4 linked regions of the Homo sapiens genome follow. The protein of the gene in region 1 interacts with the protein of each later gene in a pairwise test. Each region holds a gene or a part of one and is shown in the gene's direction. Other genes may lie near its edges.

Region 1 (7,027 bases):
TGTTTCTTGCTATTACTAGACAAGAAAGTGAAAATTGGGACTGAACAAAACATCCCATTTCTGTTTAATAAATATAGCCAGTAATTCTTTGTGCTGTTTTGATTGATACTGGGCTGGGTAGATCTGCTTTGTTGCCAGACTTTTAGCCCTGTGCTGCCTGATAGCCAGTTGTCACGTGTGGCTGTTGAGCCCTTGAATGTGATTAATATAAATTGAGATGTGCTGTAAGTGTAAATACACACTGGATTTCAAAGTACATAAAAGCTAGTATTAGTTTAGTAATGAAGTTGCAAATATTTCAAATTAACCACATTTGAGCTTCAAAAGCTGAGCCACAAGATTAAAAATGAGTAAAATATCATCTGCATTTTGATAAATGTTGCTTAGTGTCATCTGGCATAATACAGTTTTTTGGTTATAGTGGACATTTGTATTTTCTTAGAACCATTAAAATAGTTATGAAAATGTGTTTTAGGATTATCAACTGGAAAACTAAGCTTTATCATTATTGTGTTGTTTTAATTATTTTATGTATTTGGATTTATTAATTCAACTTTGAAAATCTGTTTTTTCCCATGATTCCATGTAGTGGCACCCAATCAGTGTTTATTCAACTACTGAGGTTGTTGTCCTTTGAAAGAATCAAACCTGTGGTGTGGTCATCAGGTGGCAATGATTGTTGCAGTCCAGATAACCAGATTTGAGAGTTTACTTTTCTGTTCGTTGACATGGTTTGGCTCTGTGTCCTCACCCAAATCTCATCTCAAATCGTAATCCCCATGTATCAAGGGAGGGACCTGGTGGGAAGTGATTGAATCATGGGGGCCATTTCCCCCATGTTGTTCTGGTAGTGAGTTCTCATGAGATCTGATAGTTTAAAAGTGTGTGGCAGTTCCCCCTTCTTTCTCTCTCCTGCCACCACGTAAGATGTGCCTTGCTTCCCCTTCATCTTCTGCCATGATTTAAGTTTCCTGAGGCCTCCCAATTATGGAACTGTGGGTCAATTAAACCTCTTTTCTTTATAAATTACCCAGTTTCAGGTAATTCTTTATAACATTGTGAAAATAGACTAATACAATCATCATTAACCTTATGTTATTACAGAATTTTAATAGTTTTTTAAAAGCAATTTCATAATTAGTTAATTTACTTCTCTCAGCAACTTGGTAGAAGTTGAACAAGAGAGAATAAACGCTGCCCTTAAGCTCACATATGTAGTATTACTAGTTGTCTGGTTGTCTATCTTAGGCCAATCCTTATACAAAATTCTTGACTTACATTAGGTCATTTAATCCTGAGAACAACCACCTGTGGTATGAATTTATTATTCCACTTTTACAAGTATGGAGGCTGAGGCTTAGGGATAGGAGGAGTTTTGCTTACATTTACATAGTTTGTAAGTGTTAAAGCTGTGGTTCAAATCCAGGCGTACCTGACTTCAAAGTCCCAATTCTTCTTCACCCCCAGTTGTACTATCAAAGAACATTTTCCTTTGAACCTATTTAGGAAAGAAGAGTTGAAGATAGAATTCAGTTCCATTTGCATATTGATCTTTTAAAATTGTTAACCACAGCATAATCTAACCTTATTTTAATCCCAGTTTAGTAAACAGTGACCTTTTCTAATATACACATGCATTTTTTTCTCCCCATTGTTATATATACACCACATTTTCTTTTTTTTCTCCCTAACTTTTATTTTAGGTTCAGGGGTACATGTGCAGGTTTGTTACATGGGTAAATTGCATGGCTTGGGGATTTGGTACAGATTATCACCCGGGTAATAAGCATAGTGTCTGATAGGTAGTTTTTCTTTTCTTTTTTTTTTTTTTTCTGAGACGGAGTTTCACTTTTGTTGCCAAGGCTGGAGTGCAGTGGCGCGATCTCAGCTCACCTCAACCTTCGCCTCCCAGGTTCAAGCAATTCTCCTGCCTCAGCCTTCCAAGTAGCTGGGATTACAGGCATGCATCATGAAGCCTGGTTAAGTTTTGTATTTTTAGTAGAGACGGGGTTTCTGCATGTTGGCCAGGCTGGTCTCGAACTCCCGACCTCAGGTGTGAGCCATCACGCCCGGTCCCTGATAGGTAGTTTTCAATCCTCATGCTTCTCCCATCCTCTGCCCGCAAGTAGGCCTCAATGTTTATTGTTCCCTTCTTTGTGTCCATGTGTACTCAGTGTTTAGCTCCTACCTATCAACATGTGGTATTAGTTTTCTCTTCCTGCATTAATTCACTTAGGATAATGGCCTCCAGTTCCATCAGTGTTGCTGCAGACTACATGCTCTTGTTCTTTTTTATGGCTGGGTAGTATTCCATGGTGTCTGCATACCACATTTTCTTTATCCAGCCCACCATTGATGGGCATTTAGGTTGATACCGTATCTTTGCTATTGTGAATAGTGCTGCAATTAACATGTGCACACGTGTTTCTTTATGGTAGAATGATTTCTATTCCTTTGTAGAAATAGTCCCATTAATGGGACTGCTGGATTGAATGATAGTTCTAAGTTCTTTGAGAAGTCTCCCAACTGCTTTCCACTGTGACTGAACTAATTTATGTTCCCACCAGCAGTGTATAAGCATTCATTTTTCTTTGCAACCATACCAGCATCTGTTATTTTTTGACTTTTTAATAATAGCCATTCTGATTGATGTGGAATGGTATTTATTTCATTGTGCTTTTGATTTGCATTTCTCTAATAAGCAGTGATGTTGAGCATTTTCTCATATGCTTGTTGGCCACATATACACATAAATCTTTATGTTTGAAGGTGCAGACCCCTTTTGGTCTCAAATAGACCCTTTTGGCCGCTTCGAGTTCAGCTATTAACCTTCAGGTGGTTCAGTGCTTTCCTTACACTTTCCCATATAATATCTCCACTCCCCACAGCATACACAGGCTATTAGAACTAAAGTATGGTCTTTTTTTTTTTTAATCTCTGTGACTTAAAATAGGTTCTGATCAACTCTGACTCCCATATGTTCTCTTGAGTTGGTAAAAGTTGAAAAGTTATCTGCATTGGATAGAGATATTTCAAACACAATACTCACTGCTGCGTCACTACATATCCTAACCCCCATTTTCAGCCTACGGGAGGAAGGAAACATCCTTTCTTAGAAACTGTCAACCTTTCTGATATGAATTTACAGCTGATGACTATTTCTTGTGGGAATTTACTATTCTAGTTTTAAGCCTTTGTATAAAGGTTAAAACTTAGTTCCAGCTTTTTCATATCCTCCTTTGAACCTGTTTTTGAAAAGACTAAATACCAGCCAGAAGAAATATCTTAAAAATACATTACCTTTCAGGTGGTGTAAGTCAGTTTGGACAGAAGGCACACTGAAAAATGCTTAAGTATTATTTGTTCTTTATAATTTCTTGTTTAGATTTTAAGACCTTTATCCTAAAGAATGTCACTCCTTTCTTCTTAGTGTACCTCGGTATGATCAACCACCTCCTGTCACATACCAGCCACAGCAAACTGAAAGAAATCAGTCCCTTCTGGTACCTGCAAATCCATATCATACTGCAGAAATTCCTGACTGGCTTCAGGTTTACGCACGAGCCCCTGTGAAGTAAGTACATTTACAACACAAATTTGTTTGAGGAGTGAGTGAAGGGCTGAATGGAGTCTCTGGGCTGCTCGATCCAAGTAGTGTGCCATATTTTACTCTTAATAATATTCGGCTTCTAAGTAATACGTGACTTGAATAAAGGATGTCATAGTTTATAATGTGTGAAAATCATTAATTAGAAATATTAGTTCTTCAGACATTTATAGAATCTTCATTTCTTTGTGTGCGGGCCTCTGCTATTAGGGATACAAGTAAGAAACTTACATTCTCATAGGAGAAGATTAATTTGTAAATAAGTGATACAGTACTTGTGATAAAAGTAAGGACCTGGGCTTGGCACAGTGGCTCACACCTGTAATCCCAGCACTTCGGGAGGCTGAGGCAGGAGGATCTCTTAAGTCCAGGAGTTCGAGACCAGTCTAGGCAACATAACGAGAGCCCCATTTCCACAGAAAAATTTTAAAAATTAGCCAGGCTTTTTGCATGGTCTGTAGTCCCAAGTACTTGGGAGGCTGAGGTGGGAGGATAGCTTGATCTGAGGAGTTCAAGTTCAGCCTGAGCAACATAGCAGGACTCTGTCTCTATAAAAAATTTAAAAATTAGCAGCATGCTGTGGTGTATGCCTGTGATCTCAGCTACTTGGGAGGCTAAGGTGGGAGGACTGCTTGAGCCCAGGAGTTTGAGGCCGCAGTGAGCTATGCTTGTGCCACTGCACTCCAGCCTGGGTGACAGAGCATGAGAGACCCTGACTGCCCCCCTACTAGTGCCAGAAAAAGGAATGATAGCAGATGGCATTTTCTTTCCTATTTTCCTCTTTTCTTTGTCCCTTGATACCACCTGACCTACAGCTGTATGTTTGTATGCTGATTCTAAATAGTACATAATATCTGTATGCGTTTTTATTTTCCTTAAATCTGGAAGAATATGTGCCTAACTGTTAACCTTAGTATTTCTGGGGGTGGATATGGTTGAGGAGAGTTATTCTTTCTGTTGTATGTTATTTCTACTCTATAGTCATGTTTAATAAGAAATAGCATAATCTTTCCTTTTTGGGGGAAGAGATAGTACTTAAATGGAATTCCTGGTTTCTTACAGAAAGAAACAGATTCCTGAAGATTATAGTCTTTTTGAATTCTGTGGTTCTGTGAGCTAACTATAAAACTCAAGGAAACTAGCAAATAGGTTGTAATTCTTCCAAAATGGGCCAGACTGACAAAAAGGGAGCAAGTACTATACTTCTTTACTGCTTAAAAACTTAAACAAGAGGTCTGGAAGCCTGTTGCTTTCTAGTTGATTCTAATTAATGTTGCTGAAGAGGATGGAAATGGTTAATATTCTATCAACAAAGGGTGAGTGGTTATCTATGAATTAGATAATGAGAATCAATTATCACAACAAAAAGAGACATTTTTGCAAAAAAAATTTGCATGTTTCTTCCTTTTGTTTTTCAGACAATTGAGAATCTGAAATTCTTTAATCCTGAAATTCTTTAATCCTATCTCTCACAGTAATTTACCAACACAATTTTTGCATATACTTCTAAAACTTGATTTAGAAACAGACTGTGTTTTAAATTTGTATTTAATTTTTGTAAAGTTATGTTCCTGTGTCTGCTCACAAAAGTCTATAATGCTTGGTATAACTGTACTCAAGCTGAACTATAGGATAAAATTTTAAAAGTTAGGCCGGGTGCGGCGGCTCATGCCTGTAATCCCAGCCCTTTGGGAGGCTGAGGCGAGTGGATCACAAGGTCGAGAGATCGAGACCATCCTGGCTAACACAGTGAAACTCTGTATCTACTAAAAATACAAAAAATTAGCTGGGTATGGTGGCACGCGCCTGTAGTCCCAGCTACTCGGGAGGCTGAGGCAGGAGAATCATTTGAACCCGGGAGGCGGAGGTTGCAGTGAGCCAAGATTGCGCCATTGCACTCCAGCCTGGGTGACAGAGCGAGACTCCATCTCAAAATAAAATATAATAAAATAAAATTTAATCTTTGACAGCAAAAACATTGTCAAGAACATATTTACTTTCTGTTATTTCTCACACACACACCAAAACACTAGTCCTCAGCAGTGTGTGGCAGGGGTATTTTTTATTCCAGTGGCTTGGCAGTCCTGCAGTGTCACCATTGACCCTGCTCTGGATACAGGTGAAAAAGAGGGAGGAGTGGACACAGTGTTATGGCGGGTGGGTGCAGGGGACTTAGGCTACATGGTGATACCTGGAGCTGAGGATAGCAGCACTGTTGATCTTGAAGTCAGCATGCAGTGTGGACAGGTTATTTTTGGTAGCATTATAGCAACTGGCATTTGTATATATGGCTTATTTATAAGTAGTATTTGAATAGAATACTGCCCTAGGAAAAACAGAGTGAAAGAGATGCTAGAAGCATGGACTACTGGAGTGTTTTACACCCAATTTTCGGAATGATTTACCTGTGTATATACAGTATAAATGACTAAAAGTTAAACTTGTGGAAGCAAATTTCTTGGCTAGTTAAGAAGGAAAGAATGGGAGTTTATACTTTTCAGAAAAAGAAGGAACACTTAGGTGATTATAGGCAGAAGGGTAGTAACTATGTAGAAGCAACAGAGGAAAGAATTTGGAATAGGATTTCCATTCCATGCTTTGCAGTTTTTTCACATCTGTGCCCTTCTTGGAGTGCACTTTCTTCCCCCAGAAGGATTTTCTCTAATCTGATTTTGTTGCTTCTACCCATAATCGTACTCTTGATGCTGAATGCTGATTGGCAAGTCAGAAACTTGGCCAGGCATGGTGGTGCACCTGTAATCCAAGCTACTTGAGAGGCAGAGTCAGGATTGTTAGAGCTTAGGAGTTCTGGGCTGTGATGCACTATGCCAGTCGGATGTCTGTACTCTTTGGCATCAGTATGGTGACCTCCCAGGAGCAGGGACCACCAGGTTGCCTAAGGAGGGGCGAACTGGCCCAGGTTGGAAAGGGAGCAGGTTAATACTACTGTGCCGATCAGTAGTGGCATTGTGCTTGTGATTAGCCACTGCACTTCAGCCTGGGAGACATAGGAGATCTTCATCTCTTAAAAAAAAAAAAAAAAAAAAAAAAACTGACAAAATTGTTTGAAGATTTTTTCTTCCTTTAGACAAAACTTGAATACTTATACAGAATGATATTCGTGTCTTAAAAATAAGTATAATATTTACCATCTTATTTTTGTTCTTTGTTTTCCTTGCTAGAAAGTACACAGATGATAGATTAGTTTAACATTGTTGTAGTTCACCTGGTATAAATGGTAACCATCTTGACTTAGTAGACATTGCTGAATTGCCTCTTAGCTAACTCTGGGAGATTAAGATTTTTTGTTAGGAATTATGAATTTGTTTCCAAGGAGCACATAAAATCTTAAGTTACAAGAATGGTGGATGTTCTAAGAAATACCTTATAACTGTTTCTTCATGGAGGCTCATTGAGTAT
Region 2 (7,027 bases), on another chromosome or scaffold:
GTACTATAAGAAGTAGATTCCTACTGAGAACCGGAACCACAGAGAAAACCTAGTGCCTCTCACAGGGAGCTGGGGGGTCTGATGTGGGTGTTGCCCTGTTAGGCTGGAGTTATAAAGCTTCGCTGCCTTTTCAGGCAGAACAGGAACTGGAAGTTTCCACAGACTTCTCCACTGAGAACCTGTGTCCTCTGATTAGGTCCCACATTTGACCAAGGAGTGCCTGGTAGCGTTGAGATGTGGGAGAGAATGCACTAATCTGAAGGCAGCCCTGCGTCAGGAATTCAGCAACCTGGAAGAGGTACAAAAAGGGGTCCCTCTCCTGGTCAGCTACAGTGGAGGAAGCTAGGCAGGGTCGCTAACCTGGTCACTCTAACACCAGCTTTCACAGGCTTATTCTTTCTGCCTTTGATAAGTCAGACTTCTGATCATCTGATTGCATGTTTGCCCTCCTCTAACCTGGTCTAGAATTATTCTGGAAAATCTGATGAGGAGTTGGGGAGGACATGCCATGAATTGCTTCCTTTCCCAGAGTCACCCCATCTCCCTGAGTAGCTCTGCATGGCTTCTGTAGCTTCTGCCAATGAGGTCAAGGTCTGTAAAGGTTAGGGGTTGTGTTTGGCTGCTGAAGTCTAACTACTGTAAATTCATGTTGTAAGGGTTTACTCTCTCACATAACATTCTTTCTCACGTATTATAAGGGTTTATTCTCACACATACGGTGGCTCACACCTGTGATCCCAGCACTTGGGGAGGCTGAAGCAGGAGGATCACTTGAGCCTAGAAGTTTAAGACCAGCCTAGGCAACATAGCAAGACCCCTCCTCTACAAAAATAATTTTAAAAATTAGCCAGGCATAACGATGTATACCTGTAGTCCCAGCTACTTAGGAGGCTGAGGCAGGAGGATTGCTTGAGTCTGGGAGGTCAAAGCTGCAGTGAGCCATGATTGCACCACTGCACTCTAGCCTGGGTGACAGAGTAAGTAGGACTGACAAAAAAAAAAAAAAAAAAAAAAAAAAGCCAGAGGTAGGCAGTTCAGGCCTATCTTGATGGCTTCTTCATGACATTATCAGGAACTGAAGCTTTTTCTCTTTATGGGCTCTGTCATCCTTAGCACAACTTAGTACAAGGGTATCATCCTCAAAATAACAAGATAGCTGCTGTCACTGCAGCCATCACATCCAAGTTCCAGGCTCTGAAAAGGAGAATATAAAGAAAAAAATGGCAAATGGTCATACCCCTTTAAAGGGCTTTAAATCCTACCAGAAATTCTACTCAATGGCTATTTACATTTCGTTGGCCAGAACTTAGTTGTGGGGTCATAACTATCTTAGAGAAAGCTGGGAAATACAGTCTTTTAGCTGGGATACCCTGAATAAAATCAGAGGTCTGTAATTAAGGAAGAAGGGGGAAATGGGTGCGGTGGCAGGAATACTCTTTGCCAGTAGATGCTTCATTAACCTGGCAGTAATGGAGCTACTTATCCTGTACTTCTAGAATAATCAGGAAGGCAGTTCTTTTACTTCCTTTATTTTTGCTCCAGAAACTGACAAATTCACCTTATGGGTGGGTGGTTCCTCTATTGGCAGCCAGAGAATACAATTTTTTTCCCCTTAAGGGAAGACTGGTTATTAATACTCTTCCATTTGACCTTTATCAAGTGGAAACAGATTAAATGTATTGATATTTCCAGTTGCCTATCTCAAATTTGTACGATTAAGTATTTATGGATGACGAATGGTCATGTGTAGGAAATGTCAACCTTTTGTCCTGAGGTCACCAACTGTGGCCTTGACTCCAAGGAGGCCATATGATGTGGTGGAAAGAATCTTGGATCTTAGGCTTGGCTTTACTGAATTCCAGAACCTTGGGCAATGTTCTGTACCTCTCTGGGCCTTGGTTTTCCCATGTGTAAAATGAGGGATTATTTTGAAATGTGTGTTCCTCAGAGCCTCTGGGTTCTGCAGGGGACTGCCCAGTGAGTGGAGGCCTGGTAGATTGTTCTAGACACTGCTTTACTTAGGTCAGCACTGCCTTCAACCACCATGTTCAACCTGACATCTAAGAAGATGGCATTTGGGGAGAGAGGAGAGCTGCTGCTTTAAAAAAGAAGTTCGAAAATCTTGTGAATAGAGAATTTATAGTCTATTTTAAAGATCAGCTGAATGGACCCCATCATGCCTGGTTACCTTCTCACAGATAAACAAATACTGGACCAGGGAAAGGAGCTGGGAAAAAAAAAACTCTTTGAATTCAACGATACAGTAATTGAAACATTTTCATCAGTTTCCCTTCTACCTCCATTTGGATGATGGATGAACTTTTTAAATTACAGATTGCTAGATGAAAGTATAGGGTTATGATGGAGATACAGTTCTTCTTCAGTCGGGGGTCTTTTCCAGGGCAAATGAACCAGTATTTTGTGCCATGAATCGTGCTGCAGATACTTGCATACATCATCTCATTCAATCTTTCCAACAACCTTCTCAGGTACAAATGGTACTAGTCCTGTTTTGCAAATTGGAGTGGCCTCTCTGTAAAGGCTCAGAACTAGGTACTAGGAATAAAAAGAAATTAAAGACCCTCGAGGGGCTCAAAGCCTGGACAGGGAGATAGGCTGTTAAGCCCATTTAAAACCTGGGTGTGTTGAGTGCTAGGCTGGAGACATGCATACAAGAAGGCTGGTCTGTGGGGGTAGATAATGCCTCTGTTGACTCTTAGGATGAATTAGAGGCACAAGGGTGAGAGCCTGGTGTGTTCGGCAAACAATAATCAGTGAGGGGTTGACAGCGAGGGAGTGATTGGTAAGAGGTGAATGTGGAGGGTGGACCAGAGTCAGATGCTAAAAGGCCTTTTCCACTGTGCCCAGGGATTTGCACTTTATTTCAGAGTTGATGGTGAGTAATTGAAGCCTGTCAAGCAGGAGAGTGGTGTACTCCTTCATGCTTTTAAAAGTATTCAGTCCATCACTTGAACCCAGGAGGGGGAGGTTGCTGTGAGCCAAGACTGCGCCACTGCACTCCAGCCTGGGCAACAGAGTGAGACTCTGTTTCAAAAAAAAAAAAAAAAAAGAAAAGAAAAGAAAAAGTATTCAGCCCAGCTGAGCACAGTGGCTCATGTCTGTAATCCCAGCACTTTGAGAAGCCAAGACGGTAGGATCGCTTGAGCCCAGAAGTTTGAGAACACCCTGGTCAACATGGCAAACCTCCATCTCTTTAAAAAATACAAAATGTTAGCTTGGCATGGTGGCTTATGCCTGTAGTCCTAGGTACTTGGGAGGCTGAGATGAGAGGATCACTGGAGCCTAGGAGGTTGAAGCTGCAGTGAGCTATAATTGCACCACTGCACTCCAGCCTGGACAACACAGTGAAACCCTATCTCAAAAAAAAAAAAAAAGAAGAAGAAGAAGTTCAGCCCAGCAAGAATGTAGAGGATGGATTAGAGTGTCCAAGAGGAGGGACTGGGAAGGGACAAAGAGGACCCCACTAACGAGGGTTGGAGAGGGAGGTTTAATTAGAGAGATTTTGAGGAACTAAGATGAGATGAAATCTGAGGAAGGAGTAGGAGTTATGGAGGATGGTTTCCAAGTTTGTGGCCGGTAAATGTGATGCTTTTCACTAAGAGTTTGAGGGAAGACACATTTTGTCAAATTTGTGGTGTTGATGGGATATTCATATGCGGGCAGAGCTTAGAAGAACAATGTATGGTCTCTACTGGACCTTTGGAATGGTTTTATGGGCTAGGAGCTTTCACCAGAGAGTTTAGGAATGTCATTAGTGGGGTGGTGATAAATGTTTAAGAATCAATTTTCTCTTAAAAGAGAAAGAAAAAGAAAAAGCACGGATTTATAGCATTTGCTGATTTGGGTGGTGTAAACACTTCCGTCAAGGTTAATTTTGAGCTACCAATGTGCTATTTCTAAACTCAAGAGCTGGCAAAAGATGTGGGCAGCTCCAGCATGTCACTGAATAAGAAATTTCACTTTATCTTCAATAACTGAGCCCCAGGAACACTGTTGTTAACCAGCCTCTATATAGGTAGCTTTCACTAACCAGCCTCGGTGTAGGTAGCTTTCACTGATGCTATTTAAGGACCACTGAGTACTCCACATTGTCCTAACAGGTTTGAATGTGGTTTTGTCCCATAGAATGTTAGCAAGAATTGTAGCTATGGCTGGGCGTGGTGGCTCACACTTGTAATCCAGGCACTTTGGGAGGCCAAGGAGGGAGGATCACCTGAGGCCAGGAGTTCAAGACCAGCCTGGGCAACACAGTGAGACTATGTTTCTACTAAAAATTAAAACATGAACTGGTCATGGCAGTGCGGGTCTGTAGTCCCACCTTCTCTGGAGGCTGAGGCGGGAGCATCTTTTGAACCCAGGAGTTTGAGCTTGCAATGAGCTATGATCGTGCCACTGTACTCCAGCCTGGGTGACACAGCAAGACTCTGTCTCAAAAACAAATAAACAAAGAATTATAACTACAATGTAGGAAATATTGAAATCTGAAAACATGACCAATGTACTTGAATTATGCGATCTGTTCCTTTAAATGCCAAAATATTTATTCCAGGAGATTCTAGTGAAATTGAAATTTATCAGAATAATTCTAATGGAGAGGATCCCCTGATTTATGTAACTCTTTCACATGGTTTTGCACAATCAGGATTTTTTGTGAGCTAAAAATATATTAAATACTCATTGTCTTTCTGAGTGATAAGCAAGCCAAGATTTCATGCATAATCTTCTGCTATGTTATCCTGAAACAGAAGGCTCAGTTAACCTTTTGTGGCCTTAAACTCTGACACTTTCTTCTTTTGAAATAACTGCCTTGTCTAACTTTTTAAGTTTTTTTTTTTTTTTGGCTTGTTTTTTTGTTTGCTTGTTAGTTTTTTAAATCTAGTTTCAGGTGGGTTCAGTGGCTCATGCCTGCAATCCCAGCACTTTGGGAGGCCGAGGCGGGCAGATCATTTTAATCCAGGAGTCCGAGACAAGACTGTACAACATGGCAAAACCTTATCTCTACAAAAAATACAAAAATTAGTTGGATGTGGTGATGCATACCCGTGGTCCCTGCTACTTGGGAGGCTGAGGTGGGAGGATCACTTGAGTCCAGGAGGTCAAGGCTGCAGTGAGCTATGATCATGCCACTGTACTCCAGCCTGGGTGACAGAGTGAGACTTTGTCTCCAAGAAAAAAAAAATTAAGTTCCATCAAAATCAAAGATTTATTGTGCTTGTTATATAACCACATTTTTCTCTAATATCTTTTACAATTCTTTGAGATATATTACTGCCACTTTTATTATCAAACTAGCAGCCTGCTCACTGGCTTTCCTGTTCTGAACATTGGCATGAGTTTTAAAACTATGACACTTGTCTTGTCTTGCTGCACTTTATGTCTTCAAGCAGATTTTCTAGCCCTTACTGAATCATTACTCTAAGCAGCACACATTTTTTAGTTTTATTCTTTTTCAGGTATTGACTTTCCCATTTCAGAATGGGACTTGAGCCAGGCTTCATTTGATCTTTGTGGATTTGAATGTGGCAGGACCTCTTGGTGTCACTTTTTATCTGTGCCTTCCAAAAATATTTTCATTATGGAAGTAGTCAAATCAAGTCCAAGTGCAGTGAAAGGTGGATTTGGTCAGATTTCCTTGAGGCTTTGGAGTTTTGCTTTAAATCTAGAAAGTGTTCGTGGCTTCTGAATTGGTTCTGCACTCTGACTATTGCTTGGTCCTTTCTTCGTCATCATCAGAGCTCCATAAAAGAGAGCGGGGAGGGGATAACATAAATAATGCTGAAATAGCCCTGAGGGATGAGACATGGCCCAGCAACTGAAGCCTTCGTCTGCCCGTGGCCACAGGGCACTTTATGGTTTTGCTTCTTGTCATTCAACCACCTGCCTTGGGGTGCTTCACTTTGCATTTCCACGCAGAGTTTCCCGCATTGCCAAACTTGATCATGTGCCTTATGTGTAGCAGTTTGCATGAGGTGGAATTTGCATAAATTATGTGTGCATCACCCAGGAGCATCTGTAGTTAAATACTTTATTGATTCTAAATTTTGCCCATAATCTTAATTTTTTAATTATTTTATTTTCTTTTCCTCTTTTAGAGATTGGGGTCTCTCTCTATTGCCCAGGTTGGAGTGCAGTGGCACAGTCATGGCTCACTGTCGTCTTGAGCTCCTGGGCTCAAGCAGTACTTCCACCTCAGCCTCCCGAGTAGCTGGGATTACAGGCTGAAGCCACCGAGCCTGCCTCCGTTATCTTAATTATTATTATAATTATTTTTTTGAGTCAGGGTCGCACTCTGTCACCCACATTGGAGTGCAGTGACACAATCACGGCTCACTGCAGCCTCAGCCTCCTGGGCTCAAGTGATTCTCTCACCTCAACCTCCTGAGTAGCTGGGACCACAGGTTCAGGCCACCATGCCCAACTGTTTTGTTTTTGTTTTTATTTGTTTTAATTTTTTGTGGAGACGAGGTCTCACTATGTTGCTCAGGCTGGTCTTGAACTCCTAGGCTCAAGTGATTCTCCCACTTCAGCCTCCCAAAGTGCTATGATTACAGGCATGAGCCACTGCACCTGGTAATCTTAATTTTTAAACTGTTCTTTCTTCTCATCAAAAAAGACATTTATTCAAGTTAGATTATATTGTCTTGGTTTAGTTTTGCTTTTGCTCTTTCTTAATTTTTATTAATTTCCAGTGATGAAATTATTTATATATTGTTTAATTGTTTCTCCTTTGATATCACCAGGATAGGAAGAAAAGAAAGTTTATACCTGGTTAATTCGTCACTGAAAACAATTTTCTGTATCCTTTTATATATAGTAGACTACAAGCTAAATTTTTTATCATCTAAGTTAACATGTCTATAAACTAAATTCATTATTACTAGCTATTTTTAATAAGTTATTGAGATATAATTCATATGCCACAAAATTCACCCTTTTCCAGTGTACAATTCACTGGCTTTTAGTATATTAAGTGAGTTGTGCAACTATCACCAGTATTTAATTTCAG
Region 3 (7,027 bases), on another chromosome or scaffold:
AGGGAGCGGGTGGACTGGAAATTTCTTTCTTCTCTTGCCAGGCAAGGGAACATAGTGCAACTTCTTTCTATCCCCAACAGTAACAAAAACCTTATAAAGAAAATGTTTTCATTTTTTTTCTTACTTTAAACCCCATTCTTAACAACAAGAACAACAACAAAAATGGAAAAGGGTTAAAAAACCTGTCTAGGCCACGTGTGGTAGCTCATGCCTGTAATTCCAGCACTTTGGGAGGCTGAGATGGGAGGATTGCTTGAGCCCAGGAGTTTGAGACCAGCCTGGACAACATGGTGAAACCCTGTCTCTACAAAAAAAATGCAAAAATTAGTCAGGCATGGTGGTGCTCGCCTGTAGTCCCAGCTACTCGGGAGACTGAGGTGGGAGCATTGCTTAAGGCCGGGAGGCAGAGGTTGCAGTGAGCTGTGATCGCACCACTGCACTCCAGCCTGGGCAACAGAGCGAGACCCTGTCTCAAAAACAAAACTGTCTAAAAGATATAAAGGGAACGAACATATGACGTTTTGTGGCAGTTTGAATGTCATGTTTATTGTATCCGCAGGGTCTCGATCAGTACCTGATATACAGTAGTTGCTCAGTGAATGCAAGCTGAATGAATGAATGTTTTCCTGATTTGATAGTAACTGGGTCTTTACCATTTCTTTTTTTTTTTTTTTTTGAGATGGAGTTTCACTCTTGTTGCCCAGGCTGGAGTGCAATGGCGTGATCTCGGCTCACTGCAACCTCCGTCTCCCGCGTGCAAACGATTCTCCTGCCTCAGCCTCCCGAGTAGCTGGGATCACAGGCACCTGCCACCATATCCAGCTAAATTTTGTAGTAGAGACGGGGTCTCACCATGTTGGCCAGGCTGGTCTTGAATTCCTGACCTCAGGTGATCTGCCCGCCTCGGCCTCCCAAAGTGCTGGGATTACAGGCGTGAGCCACCGCACCTGGCCCCTGATCTTTACCATTTTCAAATGTACTGTATCTTATGGTGCTCCCAAAAACTGTATGAAACATTAACTTAATGAAAGGGGGAGGTATTATTTAGTGATTGTATAAGGCCCACACCTAGATAGCAAGAAGGCTGGAACTCAGGTTTTCAGACTCAAATTACACTCTCTATTTTGTTACTTTTTAGCTATAAAAATAATTTTATGGCTCCATATTCCCTTTGCAAATAAGGACACCTAAAATTTAAGAGTTTCTTAAAATTTCTTTTCTTTTCTTTTTTTTTTTTTTTTGAGATAGATTCTTACTGTGTCACCCAGACTGGAGTGCAGTGGCAGGATCTTGGCTCACTGCAACCTCCATCTCCCAGGATCAATTGATTCTCATACCTCAGCCTCCTGAGTAGTTGGGATTACAGGCACCCGCTGCCAGGCCTGGCTTTTTTTTTTGTATTTTAGTCTAGATGGGGTTTTGCCATGTTGGCCAGGCTGGTCTTGAACTTCTGACCTTAAGTGATCTGCCCTCCTTGGCCTCCCAAAGTGCTGGGATTATAGGCATGAGCCACCGCGCCTGGCTGTTTCTTAAAATTTCAACTCCCTGACCTGCATATAGTCATGACAGTGTTTATAATTTGTATTTGTGGATTCACGTATTTGTGGATTCGCTGTGTTTCAAAGGATCCACCTAATCATTGTTTTCAGCAAAACCAAAAATGTGGACAGTTGTGTAATTTATTATTTGCCTTCTTGATTTCCCACCAAAATCAAACTACCTGTAAATACAGGACACATTCAGATTTCCAAAGAATAGAAATGGTCTAAAGTTATAATCTGTCAGAGTGTGTCTTACCTCTTAGCTAAGCTACCTCTCCTCCTGAGCCTTTGGTAGTTCATGGGAATAAGGAAATGAGACAGTATTTTTGCTTTAGAAGTAGGGTAGTCAAGAAGTCTTGAGAAACGTGAAATTGTCTTCTGAACAACCCACACTTTAAAAAAAATTGCGCTGAAGAATTTTACTTCAGTAAGTAAGTCTATTAGACTCCCCATAGCAGGCCTCAACTTCACCCTTTCGGTTTTCTCTTTCTTATTCAAATATTTTTGTGCCTCAATTATTTGGTTGTGTCTTATTGCTAGAATCAACAGTAATGAGCTGCACTCTTTTATTAGTGTTTCCATTAGAAGTTTAGAGCTAGATCACTGGGGTAAAAGAATAGTGGTTTATGACATAATAGGTATTTTGACTCTACTAGCCTTTTTCTTTTTTTTTTTTTGAGACGGAGTTTCGCTTTTGTCACCCAGGCTGGAGTGCAGTGGTGTGATCTCGGCTCTGCAACATCTGCCTCCTGGGTTCAAATGATTCTCCTGCCTCAGCCTCCCGAGTAGCTGGGATTACAGGCTCCCGCCACAGTGCCTGGCTAATTTTTTGTATTTTTAGTAGAGACGGGCTTTCACCATGTTGGGCAAACTGGTCTCAAACTCCTGACCTCAGGTGATCCACCCACCTCGGCCTCCCACAGTGCTAGGATTACAGGTGTGAGCCACCACTCCTGGCCTATACTAGCTTTTTAAATGCTGATTTTTAATTCCCGTATTATGGGGCATAAACATTTTCACCAGACATTTTGCCTAGGGCAAGGTGATTTACACATCTTTTCTGCATGTCTGATATGTTCTGTTCTTACACGATATTAATCCATTGGAATTTTGTGTTTGTGTGAGCAAGATTCACAAAGGCATATTCCTTTAAATGAATTTCAGAAGAAAAAGTTTCCAGTCCTATAAAGCCTCATATTTGAGTAGTATACTCCTTATCCCATTTCTTCTTCTGGCCAACTCACAAGATTTGGAATTATTTGGAAAGCAGTGACACAAAACATTTTTGAAAAGAAAGGCTAAAAATATCCAATAATGTGGTTATTCTTTTTAGACTTCCTTTGGCAGTCAGTGCATGTCATACGGTTAACATTCTTTTTCTGGGAGAAAAAAAAACTGAGTCTGACCAAATACTTTCTAGTGTGGCCTGATCACCAACTCTTAGCCCTGGGCATTAGCCCTCGCATTTTCCACCCCCAAGTCTCCAAGCATAAGTAGCTGTCTTTCAATAAAGGCCCCAGTTTGAAACGTGTATTTCACTCCTAATTTGGCCAAAGGCCATTGGCTAGCAGTCCCTCTTCAGAGGGGATGGTGAAAAGACAGTAGGATATATGATAAATGCATGCAAAGGAGCTTCTCTTCTATATGACAAGTCTTGGCTAACTTAGCCTCTTTGCATCTTCCTCTGTTTGAAGAGCTACACACATTTGCCTTGTAGGAAGTTTTTATTCTCATGGCAAGCAGGCATTACCTCTATTACAAGGCCCCGCTTATTGTTCACCCTGTGATGTAAGAGCTTTTAGGACTCCAACAATATTAGCCTTCTCTTTAATTCCTTTCAGGCCCCATCGCCATCTCAGAACCATGGCCTGGAGTTGCCGCCCTCCATTCTCCTTAACATGTCGACTCAGAAAAGTCTTAAAGCCCGCTGTTCTTTCCCTTCATAGCAAAAATTATAATTTATCATTATATTTTGTTTAATGAGGACAGAGACTAGCATTTTTTACCTACTACATAATATAAATGCTTGGCACTTAAGGTGCTTGAACAAATGAAAGCCTGCTCATTTTGGATGGATGTCCCAGTATTTGGTACTGTTAGTTTTCCTTTATACACAAATGTACACAATGTCTCCCCCTTTCCAAACTAGACCATAAGCCTTCACAGTATCTTACAGGTAGTAGTGATTTAAAATGGGATGATATTGGTAATATCTGTGATTACTGGTTAAGCATAACTCACTTTATATACTTTCCCCTTGTTTTAAGAAAACTCATCATTTATTCATTAATATATTTAGTTGACAATTTATTGTGTGCCTCCTATGTGCCAGATACTGTTCTAACCTCTGGGGTTAGGGTGGTGAACAATACACAGTCCCTGGCCTCTTTTGGCAATGTTTTTAAAAAGCTTACCCAATAGGCAAATGAAAATATCTCTCTAATTTTTCCCTAAAGAGCTTGCTCCTTTAGTGTATTTGAGGAAACTTTGAAATGTAGTTTTTCAGGAACACACCTATTTTGTAGTGTGGTAAAGCTATACATTGATTGATTGATTGGTTGAGACGGAGTCTTGCTCTGTCACCCAGGCTGGAGTACAATGATGCGATCTCCACTCACCGCAACCTCTGCCTCCTGGGTTCAAGCAATTCCCCTGCCTCAGCCTCCCCAGTAGCTGGGATTACAGGTGCGTGCCACCACATGGGGCTAATTTTTTATATTTTTAGTAGGGATGGGGTTTCACCATATTGGCCAGGCTGGTCTTGAACTCCTGACCTTGTGATCTGCCCGCCTCGGCCTCCCAAAGTGCTGGGATTACAGGAATGAGCTACCGTGCCCGGCCCTATACATCTGTTTAGATGGGAATGTTGACGTGGAAGTGTATCACTTCCTGTTTTACGTCCCTGTGTAAAACAATCACATTTCCTTATTGATGACTGTCTTCCAACAGAAACGTAATCATCTTCAAGGTTAGAAAATGTTTTTTAAATAACTTCAACCAGCGTTAACCAAACTGGTTAATTCACCAAAATGTTAACCAAAATTAACCAAATCAAATTTGGTTTATTTTCCAGGTCTCTTTTTTCTTTTCTTTTTTCATTTTTAAAGAGATGGGATCTTGCTATGTTGCCCAAGCTAAAATGCAATTGTTATTCACAGGCATGATAATAGTGCCCTATAGCCTCGAACTCCTGGGCCCACATGATCCTCCTGCCTTAGCCTCCTGAGTATTCCAGGTTTTTCTTAATAGTTTAAACAGGTAGTTCTGGTTTGGCTATCAGTAGTGTTGTCAAATAGCTTTTGTTTGCTTAATTTTATTTTTATTTTTTTTGAGACAAGTCTTGATCTGTTGCCCAGGCTGGAGTGCAGTGGCGTGATCTCGGCTCACTGCAACCTCCACCTCCTGGGTTCAAGCAATTCTCCTGCCTCAGCCTCCCAAGTAGCTGGGATTACAGGGGCATGCCACCATCCCCGGCTAATTTTTGTATTTTTAAAGTAGAGACGGGGTTATACCATGTTGGCCAGACTGGTCTCAAACTCCTGACCTCATGATCTGCCCTCCTTGGCCTCCCAAAGTGCTGGGATTACAGGCGTGAGCCACCACGCCCGGCCTTTTGTTTTTGTTTTTGTTTTTTTTAAATGGAGAGGGCCAGATAATGCTCTAGGAAGGATGTCAGAACCCATAAAAAATGATGAGTATTTGAAATATATGTAAAAACTTAAGTAACAAATCAGAAAATATATTCTGAGATAGAAGTGACCATTCTAAAACTGTGCTGTACAATACAGTAGTCACTAGCTACATGTAGTTTTTAAGCAATCGAAACGTGGCTAGTCTGATTGAGATTGCTGTGAAAAATACACACTGGATTTTGAAGATTAGAAATGTACCCTAAAACTTAAAGTATAATAATAAAAAAAAAGAAAGAATGTAAAATATGATAATTAAAAAATTGCAATTACATGTTGAAATGATAATATTCGATAATATTTGAGTTAAGTAAATTTAATGTTACTTATTTTTTAGCATGGCTATGGAAAACTTAAAATTATGCATGTGGCTCGCATGATATTTTTGTTGAACAATGCTGTTTGCTGAAGCAGGGCTGGCAGCCCTTGCCAGAGGTTTGAATCTCCATTGTCTTGGTGGCTGCAGATGGATGGATGTGGGGGTACCAGCCTGGTGTGTTGGGAAGATTTTTCTTTGTGAAGGGGAACTTGCCCTTTACTGTTGGGGATAGTTTCTTCTCAGCCTATCCAGGGACACACATACCAGCATTTTGGGGTTGTGAAACTTTTGTGTGGGGAACTTCCCTTTTTTTTTTCCACATGAGCCAATAAGATAAAACTGACCTAATGGCATTCTCGGTGCAACTCTGCCTTCAGTTTAAGGACAGAAGAGGGCTCATGTTTCATAGAGTATTAAAGGAGCAAGCTTAATATTTTGCATTTTGTGGACTGTAATTGCTAACTGCTGCTACATGATTCAGTCAGCTAAGAATAATTTACTAATTATATATTGCCTCACTTGGTTCTTTTTCCAGATGCTAAACAAGGTGAGATAATTAGAGGAGGAAAAAGGGTGAGTTTGGGAATTGGAGACCAGAAGGATGGATTTAGAAGATCTTGGAGTTAACGGACTTAGAATATAGTCAGCAAAGAGTTCACTTAAAATTAGTGCAGGTTGCCAGGCGTGGTGGCTCACGCCTGTAATCCCAGCACATTGGGAGGCCAAGGCGGGCGGATCACGAGGTCGGGAGTTCAAGACTAACCTGGCCAATATAGTGAAACCCCGTCTCTACTAAAAATACAAAAATTAGGCAGGCATGGTGGTGCATGCCTGTACTCCCAGCTACTCGGTAGGCTGAGACAGGAGAATCGCTTGAACCTGGGAGGTGGAGGTTGTGGTGAGCCGAGATTGCGCCACTGCACTCCAGCTTGGGCAACAGAGTGAGACTTTATATCAAAAAAAAAAAAAAAAGAAATTAGTGCAGGTTGACTGTGTGTGTGTGTGTGTGTGTGTAGTTTTCTGAATTCATTTTTCAAGTATTGAATATTCACAATGATGCTAGACTAAGTGCTAGAGATTTGGTGGTGAACGAAACAGATTGAAACCTGCCTTCATGGGGGGCGTATATAGGTTCGTCTGACTAGTCTAGATAAGTGAATTTGTGTAGTAATTGTTTTTTTGTAACTGGCTTAGTTTACTTAGCTTGATGTCATCAAGATTTATTCATGTTGGAGTATGTGTCAGAATTTCCTTCCTTTTAAAGGCTGAATAATATATCCATTGTATGTATATATCACTTTTTGTTTATCCATTGATTCTTCCATAGACATTAGGATTGCTTCCACCTTTTGGCTCATGTGAATAATGATGCTGTGAACAGGGGTGTACAAATATCTCTTAAAGACCCCTCTTAAAACTTTTTGCGATATATACCCATAAGTAACAGTTGCTATAGAATCATATGGTAATTCTGTTTT
Region 4 (7,027 bases), on another chromosome or scaffold:
CAAAACAGCTTCTTCAAAGGGGTTTAGGTCCTTGGCAGTCAGGCTTTGTGTGTGTCAAGGGCTTATGCCCTGACAAATATGCCTAGCCTCTGTGGGCGCCTCCCTTGCACCTGCTGCCTGCCTCAGGGCCCCTCTGCGTGACTTCTGTTCTAGCTGGCATTACAGCGTCCCTACAGCTGTCCACGTGGCCTGGTGTCAGCCGTGCCCAGCAACCCCACTGCCTGTGTCTGGTGTGCTCTGAAGTTCCTTGTTGGTCTGAGAGATATAGGATGGGTGGGCTCTCTGCTCTCTGGTAACTGGAACCTCCTTTCCACTCCTGCTAGCTGGAGCTGATATCAAGGAAATGCAGAACCTGAGTTTCCAGGACTGTTACTCCAGCAAGTTCTTGAAGCACTGGGACCACCTCACCCAGGTCAAGAAGCCAGTCATCGCTGCTGTCAATGGCTATGCCGTGAGTGTTGCTGCCAAGAGTCTCCTCCTCTCGTGGTTGAAGGAACCGTGCTGTGCATACACAGCATAACAGATTTTTATTTTGAAGAGGCCTTTAGTTCCCAGGCCAGCAGCCTCCTTTCCTGCCTCATGGTGCTAAAGAGCCAGGAACTGTGTGGAGAGGACACCTCCTGGCATCTGCTTTTTTCGTGGCTGTTCACCTGACAGCTTCTCCCCAGCAAGCCTCTCTTCCAGGGTGGGGGAAGAGAGGTGTTGGCTTTGGCTACATCTATAAACTAGCTTCTTTTGCTCCCCTTGAAAGCTCTGTGTCCTGGGACTATTTGAAGTGCTGAGACTGATCTTGGCCTATAGGGAAGGCAATGTGATCATTTCATGACGCTCCCTGCCGTGTAAGCCAGGGGTCTGCGGATTGTGATCATTTCATGACGCTCCCTGCCGTGTAAGCCAGGGGTCTGCGGATTGTGATCATTTCATGACGCTCCCTGCCGTGTAAACCAGGGGTCTGCGGATTGTGATCATTTCATGACACTCCCTGCCGTGTAAGCCAGGGGTCTGCGGATGGAGTTTTCCCGGCACAGCCACACCCACCTGTGCACCTAGTCTCTGTGGCTGCATTTCGGCCACAGCAGCAGAGTTGAGTCGTGGCAGCAGAGCCTGTAAGACCCTCATGGTCCTTTACAGGATGTTTGCCAGCCCCTGGTAAACAGCATCAACCATCTGTAGTTAACTTATCATAACAATTATCTAGTTTGGTGCCACCATGTTAGTCTTTGTCATACCCCCAACACTGTTTCTTTTAAATGGAAAATTTGAATAAGCAAGCAGAGTGATTTCTGACTGGGTTCCCCTGGTAAGACTCTCCTGATGCCGAATGTTTTACAGTTTGGCGGGGGCTGTGAGCTTGCCATGATGTGTGATATCATCTATGCCGGTGAGAAGGCCCAGTTTGCACAGCCGGAGATCTTAATAGGAACCATCCCAGGTAAAGAGTGACACTGTCTCTGGCATAGATGCCTTAGGTAATTACTCAAAATCTGCCTGTGTCTCAGGGCCCACAGCTCATATCTGACCAGAGGCCCTGGATGGACAGCCCCATGGCTGGTCAGTGGTCCCTCTGTGGACAGCCACGGAGGCTAGAGTGGTTGTGACAGAGCTTGGGGGGGGCCTTAGAGTCCCGGGACTGTGACTGTGCCCACATCTGATGGTGTTGGGAGAGGCTGGTCCTGGGTAACGCTGGCTTCTAACCATGACAGTTCTTGCTTGTGATTCGTGTCCATGGCAGAGAGGGAACATGGTGACCCTGGGTGGCACTGGGAGCTCTGCACACTGCCATCTCACTGGCCATGGAGGTCACATGGCCTGGGTTCAGGGTGGGGAGTCAGACCCCCCACCCAGGCCCGTGAGAAGGGCCTGGGCTCTTGGCAAAAAGCAACACCCTCTAACCCCAGGGTTCTCCTGGTAGGAAGGGTGGGCCCAGGCCGAGCAGCCAGGAGGGAGCTGAGACCCTGAGGGGAGCAGCTGCACTCAGGGTGCCCTTCGCTGCCCTCTGAGTTGGACGAGGCCGATTCTGAGGCCTGGAGCTGTGAGCTCGGTGCATTTGTTTCGGGTCTGATCCCTAGAACAGCTGCTACTATAAGGGACCAGTGCCTGGGGTCAGGGAGGCCTATAAGCTTCTAATATGTTGACCACAGAGGCTGGGGAGGGCCCTACAGAGTCATCACCTTGATCTAATGTCAGGGTGTTGGGGGAGTGTAGTGTCCAGCCCTACGGGGCTTAGCAGGTGTTCTCCCCATGTGCGGAGACGAGAGATTGTAAGAAATAAAGACACAAGACAAAGAGATAAAGAGAAAACAGCTGGGCCTGGGGGACCAATACCATCAAGAGGCGGAGACCGGTAGTGGCCCCGAATGGCTGGGCGCACTGATATTTATTGCATACAGGACGAGGGGGCAGGGTGAGGACGGTGAATCCTCTAAGTGATTGACAAGGTGAAGCAAGTCACGTGATCATGGGACAGGGGGCCCTTCCCTCTTAGGTAGCCGAAGCAGAGAGGGAAGGCAGCATATGTCAGCATTTTCTTCTATGCACTTACAAGAAAGATCAAAGACTTTAAGACTTTCACTCTTTCTTCTTCCACTATCTGCTACGAACTTCAAAGAGGAACCAGGAGTACGGGAGGAGCATGAAAGTGGACAAGGAGTGTGATCGTTGAAGCACCACAGGGAGGGGGTTAGGCCTCCGGATGACTGCGGGCAGGCCTGGAGAATATCCAGCCTCTCACAAGAAGCTGGTGGAGCAGTGTTCCCTGACTCCTCCAAGGAAAGGAGACTCCCTTTCATGGTCTGCTAAGTAATGGTTGCCTTCCCAGACACTGGCGTTACTGCTTGACCAAGGAGCCCTCAAGCGGCCCTTATGCAGGTGTGACAGAAGGCTCACCTCTTGCCTTCTAGGTCTCTTCTCACAATGTGCCTTCAGCACCTGACCCTATACCCGCCAGTTATTTCTTGGTTATATTAGTAATACAACAAAGAGTAATATTAAGAGCTAATGATTAATAATGTTTATACTAATGATTGATAATGTCCATGATCATCTCTATATCTAATTTGTATTATAACTATTGTTATTCTAACTATTTTCTTTATTATACCGAAACAGTTTGTGCCTTCAGTCTCTTGCCTCGGCACCTAGGTAATCCTTTGCCCACAGGGGAGCACCAGATGTGGGGCCTGAGCTTGAAAAGGGGCTGCTGCCCCTGATGTTCCCGGGCTCTTGTGCTGCCTGGCCTCTGACCCCTGGACCTAGTCTCAGGGCCTATCTTAAGCCCCTTGGAATTTGCTGGCTGCACAGCTGTGATGTCTTCTTGGGTTCACTCATCACAGTGCCAGCCATGACCAGCCCCTCCCTGCAGGTGCGGGCGGCACCCAGAGACTCACCCGTGCTGTTGGGAAGTCGCTGGCGATGGAGATGGTCCTCACTGGTGACCGGATCTCAGCCCAGGACGCCAAGCAAGCAGGTATGGGTTGGGGCTGCCCGCAAGAGCCACCTGGAAACCCGGGGTGGGAGCCCCACAGAAACCCAGGGCGGCATCCAGGTGTCCCCCTCGGGGGAGCCCCACAGAAACCCGGGGCAGCATCCAGGTGTCCCCCTCATGGGTGCCCCACAGAAACCCTGAGCTGCATCCAGTTGTCTCCCTCGTGGGAGCCCCACAGAAACCCAGAGCTGCATCCAGGTGTCCCCCATGGGGGAGCCCCACAGAAACCCAGGGCGGCATCCAGGTGTCCCCCTCGTGGGAGCCCCACAGAAACCCCGGGCAGCATCCAAGTGCCCCCACGGTGGTTGCATGAGCTTTTGGGTCCTGAGGACCTGGGAGAAGACTGACTGCCTTTTGTTTCTACATTTTGAAGTACTGTATGTACGGAAGTGAACCACACGTAAGTATCTGGTACAGAATAACAGCCCAGCAATTGCGTCCCCAAAATGCAGTGTAAGCAATGGGCATCTCCAGGCCTCAGTGGCCGGTCCTCCCACTGCCCTGTTGGTGATCACAGTCCCCGTGTCTGGCCGCCTCTGCCGTCGGAGCTGTGGCCAGCCTGGCCCACATGTCTGAGAGCACAGTGACCGCAGTGCCGAGATCACTCAGCACTCAGGAAGGGGCACGTGCGGCACTTCCCGTGTGGAAGCCGCCCTTGCTTAGCGTCCAGAGGCTGGGGTGCTCCAGCCACGCTGCTCCCCAGCGGCCACTCACTCGAGAAGGGATAGACAAGTGCTGTTTCTGCACATCACTCACTGACTTTCTTGTGTTTCAGGTCTTGTCAGCAAGATTTGTCCTGTTGAGACACTGGTGGAAGAAGCCATCCAGTGTGCAGAAAAAATTGCCAGCAATTCTAAAATTGTAGTAGCGATGGCCAAAGAATCAGTGAATGCAGGTAGGGGATCTGCCAGGAAGACACTGGAGAGGTCTCCGTGGCTGTCAGGAGCATTCCTCAGCAGCAGGCTTTCTGGCTCCAAATGAATATGCCTTAAGCCCTCCTGGGCAGAAATGCTTCTCAGTGTCTCAGTTCTGCTGTCTGTAGAGTCGTGGTTTCTGGTCACGCACTCAGGAACTCCGCTGAGATGTTCCCAGCTCCCCTTTGTACCAGGGCCCAAGAACTGAGCCAGGCCTGGGAGGTGAGGGCAGTACAGAGCTGGCAGTGGCAGGGAAAGGCTGAGAAGGGAGCAGAGGTCCCAAATGTAAAATGGTCTCTGCCATGGGGAGGCTCGGTTCACCTCCCGAGACCTGGGGTTGGCGGCTGCGTGTGCGCCTGGCAGGTGGCTACGCAGGCTTGCAGCCCAGCACCACGCTGTTCGTTCTTGGCCTGGATCCCTTTTAGTTCTCCCTCTGCCAGGGAAGTGGATCTGAACCTCCCCCTCCTCAGAAATGCTCAAGTTTTAATGTCACAATTTATTCTCAGCATGTGGAATGAGATGGTTATTAGCTGGTTGAGTCCGGACAGGTGTGGGTGGCCCCAGGCAGGTCCCCTAACCTCTCTGAGTGCATTTATCTCGAGGGTGTGGCCGTCCCCCGGGCTTGCCGTTGGCTTGAGGCAGGATACAGTGAGGAGAGCATTTTGAAAGAACGGAGGCTGCTGTCGCCCGAGGTGTTTGGCAAGGTCGTGCTCCCCTGGGAGAGGATGCTGGCACCAGCCCTGGAGCCACAGCGCCTGCCTCCATCTGCGCACCTGGATCTGCTCTGCTTGGCCTCGTGCAAAGAACGGGCCTGGAATGAGCAGAGCCAAAGGCGTTCTTGGTGCCGGCCGCGCCCAGCTCTGGCTCTCGTGCTGTCCTTCCTGGTTTTCATCCTTGGTTATTTTTCTCTGTTTGCAGCCCCGTTGCCGCCTCACAGCCTCTCCTCAAGGGCACAGTTTGCCATCTCACCTTTCATCCAGTTCCTCTCCCTTCTTGGGGCCGTGGGCTACCGGAGTGTGACGTTTGGGGGCCATAGCAGAGCTGTTGGTTCTGCCAGGTCTCCGCTGGGGCAGTGCCTTTGAGAAGGGCGGCACCATGGAAGCCTGTGCAGGGCTGGGCCACGTCGAAAGCACAGTTGTGCATGGGTCAGTGAGGAGGGCTTCCTGTCACCGTGCAGGAAAAGTTCTGCATGTAATATCTCCGTTCATAACTCTGGGACTTTGTTTTTCAGCTTTTGAAATGACATTAACAGAAGGAAGTAAGTTGGAGAAGAAACTCTTTTATTCAACCTTTGCCACTGTGAGTAAACAGTGTTCAACCGGAGAATCAAGCAAATTCCAGTCACACAAGTTGCTGGGAATTTCCTTTTAAATTTTATCATTAAGTATCGTTTCTTTCTGGTCAGAACTGCCAGCCTCACCTTTAACGGGATCAGATTGGTTCCATCAGTGGGTCTTGATGTTAGGAAAAAAGTAGAGCATGTACAAGTTCAAAAGTACAGAAACCTTACAGGGGCTTTTCTTGTTTTTCCTGTTATGTGAGGTCTGTGAATTGCACCCTCAAGCAGCTCCTTTATTGAAAATGCAGTTTCAGCCGGGTGGGTGTCGAGCATCCGTAGCCCCAGCTTCCTGGGAGGCTGAGGCGGGTCGTTCGAGTCCAACTGGGCAGCAAAGCAAGACCCCGTCTCAAAAAAAAGACTTTTTTAAAAAATGAGGCCGGGCGCGGTGGCTCACCCTGTAATCCCAGCACTTTGGGAGGCTGAGGCGGGTGGATTGCCTGAGCTCAGGAGTTTGAAACCAGCCTGGGCAACATGACGAAACCCGTCTCTACTAAAAATCCAAAAAATTAGCCGGGCGTGGTGGCAGGTGCCTGTAATCCCAGCTACTCTGGAAGTTGAGGCAGGAGAATCGCTTGAACCCAGAGGCGGAGATTACAGTGAGCCGAGATCACGCCACTGCACTCCAGCCTGGGAGACAGAGTGAGACTCTGTCTGAAAAAAAAAATGTAACTCATTTTACCCATGTTTTTTTAGATCATTCCAATTATTTGGAATAGGCTCAAATGTATTCTAATAAGATAAGCTGAAGCTTTAGAGCAATATTTTATAAGATTTCTGCCAGTAACTTAAAGTAATTCCTCTAATTACCATCATAATTTTAATTTTCTTCCCTTTGAGGCAGAGTCTTGCTCGGTCGTCCAGGCTGGAATGCAGTGGTGAGATCTCAGCTCACTGCAACCTCCACCTCCTGGGTTCAAGTGATTCTCCTGCTTCAGCCTCCCGAGTAGCTGGGATTACAGGTGCCCACCACCACACCTGGCTAATTTTTGTATTTTTAGTAGAGACAGAGTTTCACCATGTTGGCCAGGCTGGTCTTGAACTCCTGACCTCAAGTGATCTGCCTGCCTCGGCCTCCCACAGTGCTGGGATTATAGGCGTGAGCCACTGCACCCGGCCAGATTACCATTTTAATTCATGTCTTTCACTGGGAGAAAGTCATACTTCGGTGTTTTAATTGTTCTATAAAATAAAAATTAAAAGTGGTTTGGGCACCTGAGGAAGGGGTACAGATGCGTGTGTGTGTGTGTGTGTGTGTGTGTGTGCGCGCGCGCACACCTGGGGACACACGTG

The links.
Region 2: the proteins of SAV1 (region 1) and GSTO2 interact in a two-hybrid assay, tested with the Homo sapiens proteins (one study listed by IntAct).
Region 3: the proteins of SAV1 (region 1) and RASSF3 interact in a two-hybrid assay, tested with the Homo sapiens proteins (one study listed by IntAct).
Region 4: the proteins of SAV1 (region 1) and ECHS1 interact in a two-hybrid assay, tested with the Homo sapiens proteins (one study listed by IntAct).

Annotation. Positions count from the first base shown.
Region 1 is NC_000014.9:50,637,297-50,644,323, reverse strand, and holds part of SAV1 (protein salvador homolog 1), read left to right. Parts: intron 1-3,430; coding exon 3,431-3,574; intron 3,575-7,027. UniProt on the Homo sapiens protein: Regulator of STK3/MST2 and STK4/MST1 in the Hippo signaling pathway which plays a pivotal role in organ size control and tumor suppression by restricting proliferation and promoting apoptosis.
Region 2 is NC_000010.11:104,279,174-104,286,200, forward strand, and holds part of GSTO2 (glutathione S-transferase omega-2), read left to right. Parts: intron 1-196; coding exon 197-298; intron 299-6,761; coding exon of another isoform or gene 6,762-6,794; exon of another isoform or gene 6,795-6,817; intron 6,818-7,027. UniProt on the Homo sapiens protein: Exhibits glutathione-dependent thiol transferase activity. Has high dehydroascorbate reductase activity and may contribute to the recycling of ascorbic acid. Participates in the biotransformation of inorganic arsenic and reduces monomethylarsonic acid (MMA).
Region 3 is NC_000012.12:64,613,475-64,620,501, forward strand, and holds part of RASSF3 (ras association domain-containing protein 3), read left to right. Parts: intron 1-7,027.
Region 4 is NC_000010.11:133,363,328-133,370,354, reverse strand, and holds part of ECHS1 (enoyl-CoA hydratase, mitochondrial), read left to right. Parts: intron 1-323; coding exon 324-451; intron 452-1,332; coding exon 1,333-1,432; intron 1,433-3,361; coding exon 3,362-3,466; intron 3,467-4,259; coding exon 4,260-4,379; intron 4,380-5,629; coding exon 5,630-5,697; intron 5,698-7,027. UniProt on the Homo sapiens protein: Converts unsaturated trans-2-enoyl-CoA species ((2E)-enoyl-CoA) to the corresponding (3S)-3hydroxyacyl-CoA species through addition of a water molecule to the double bond.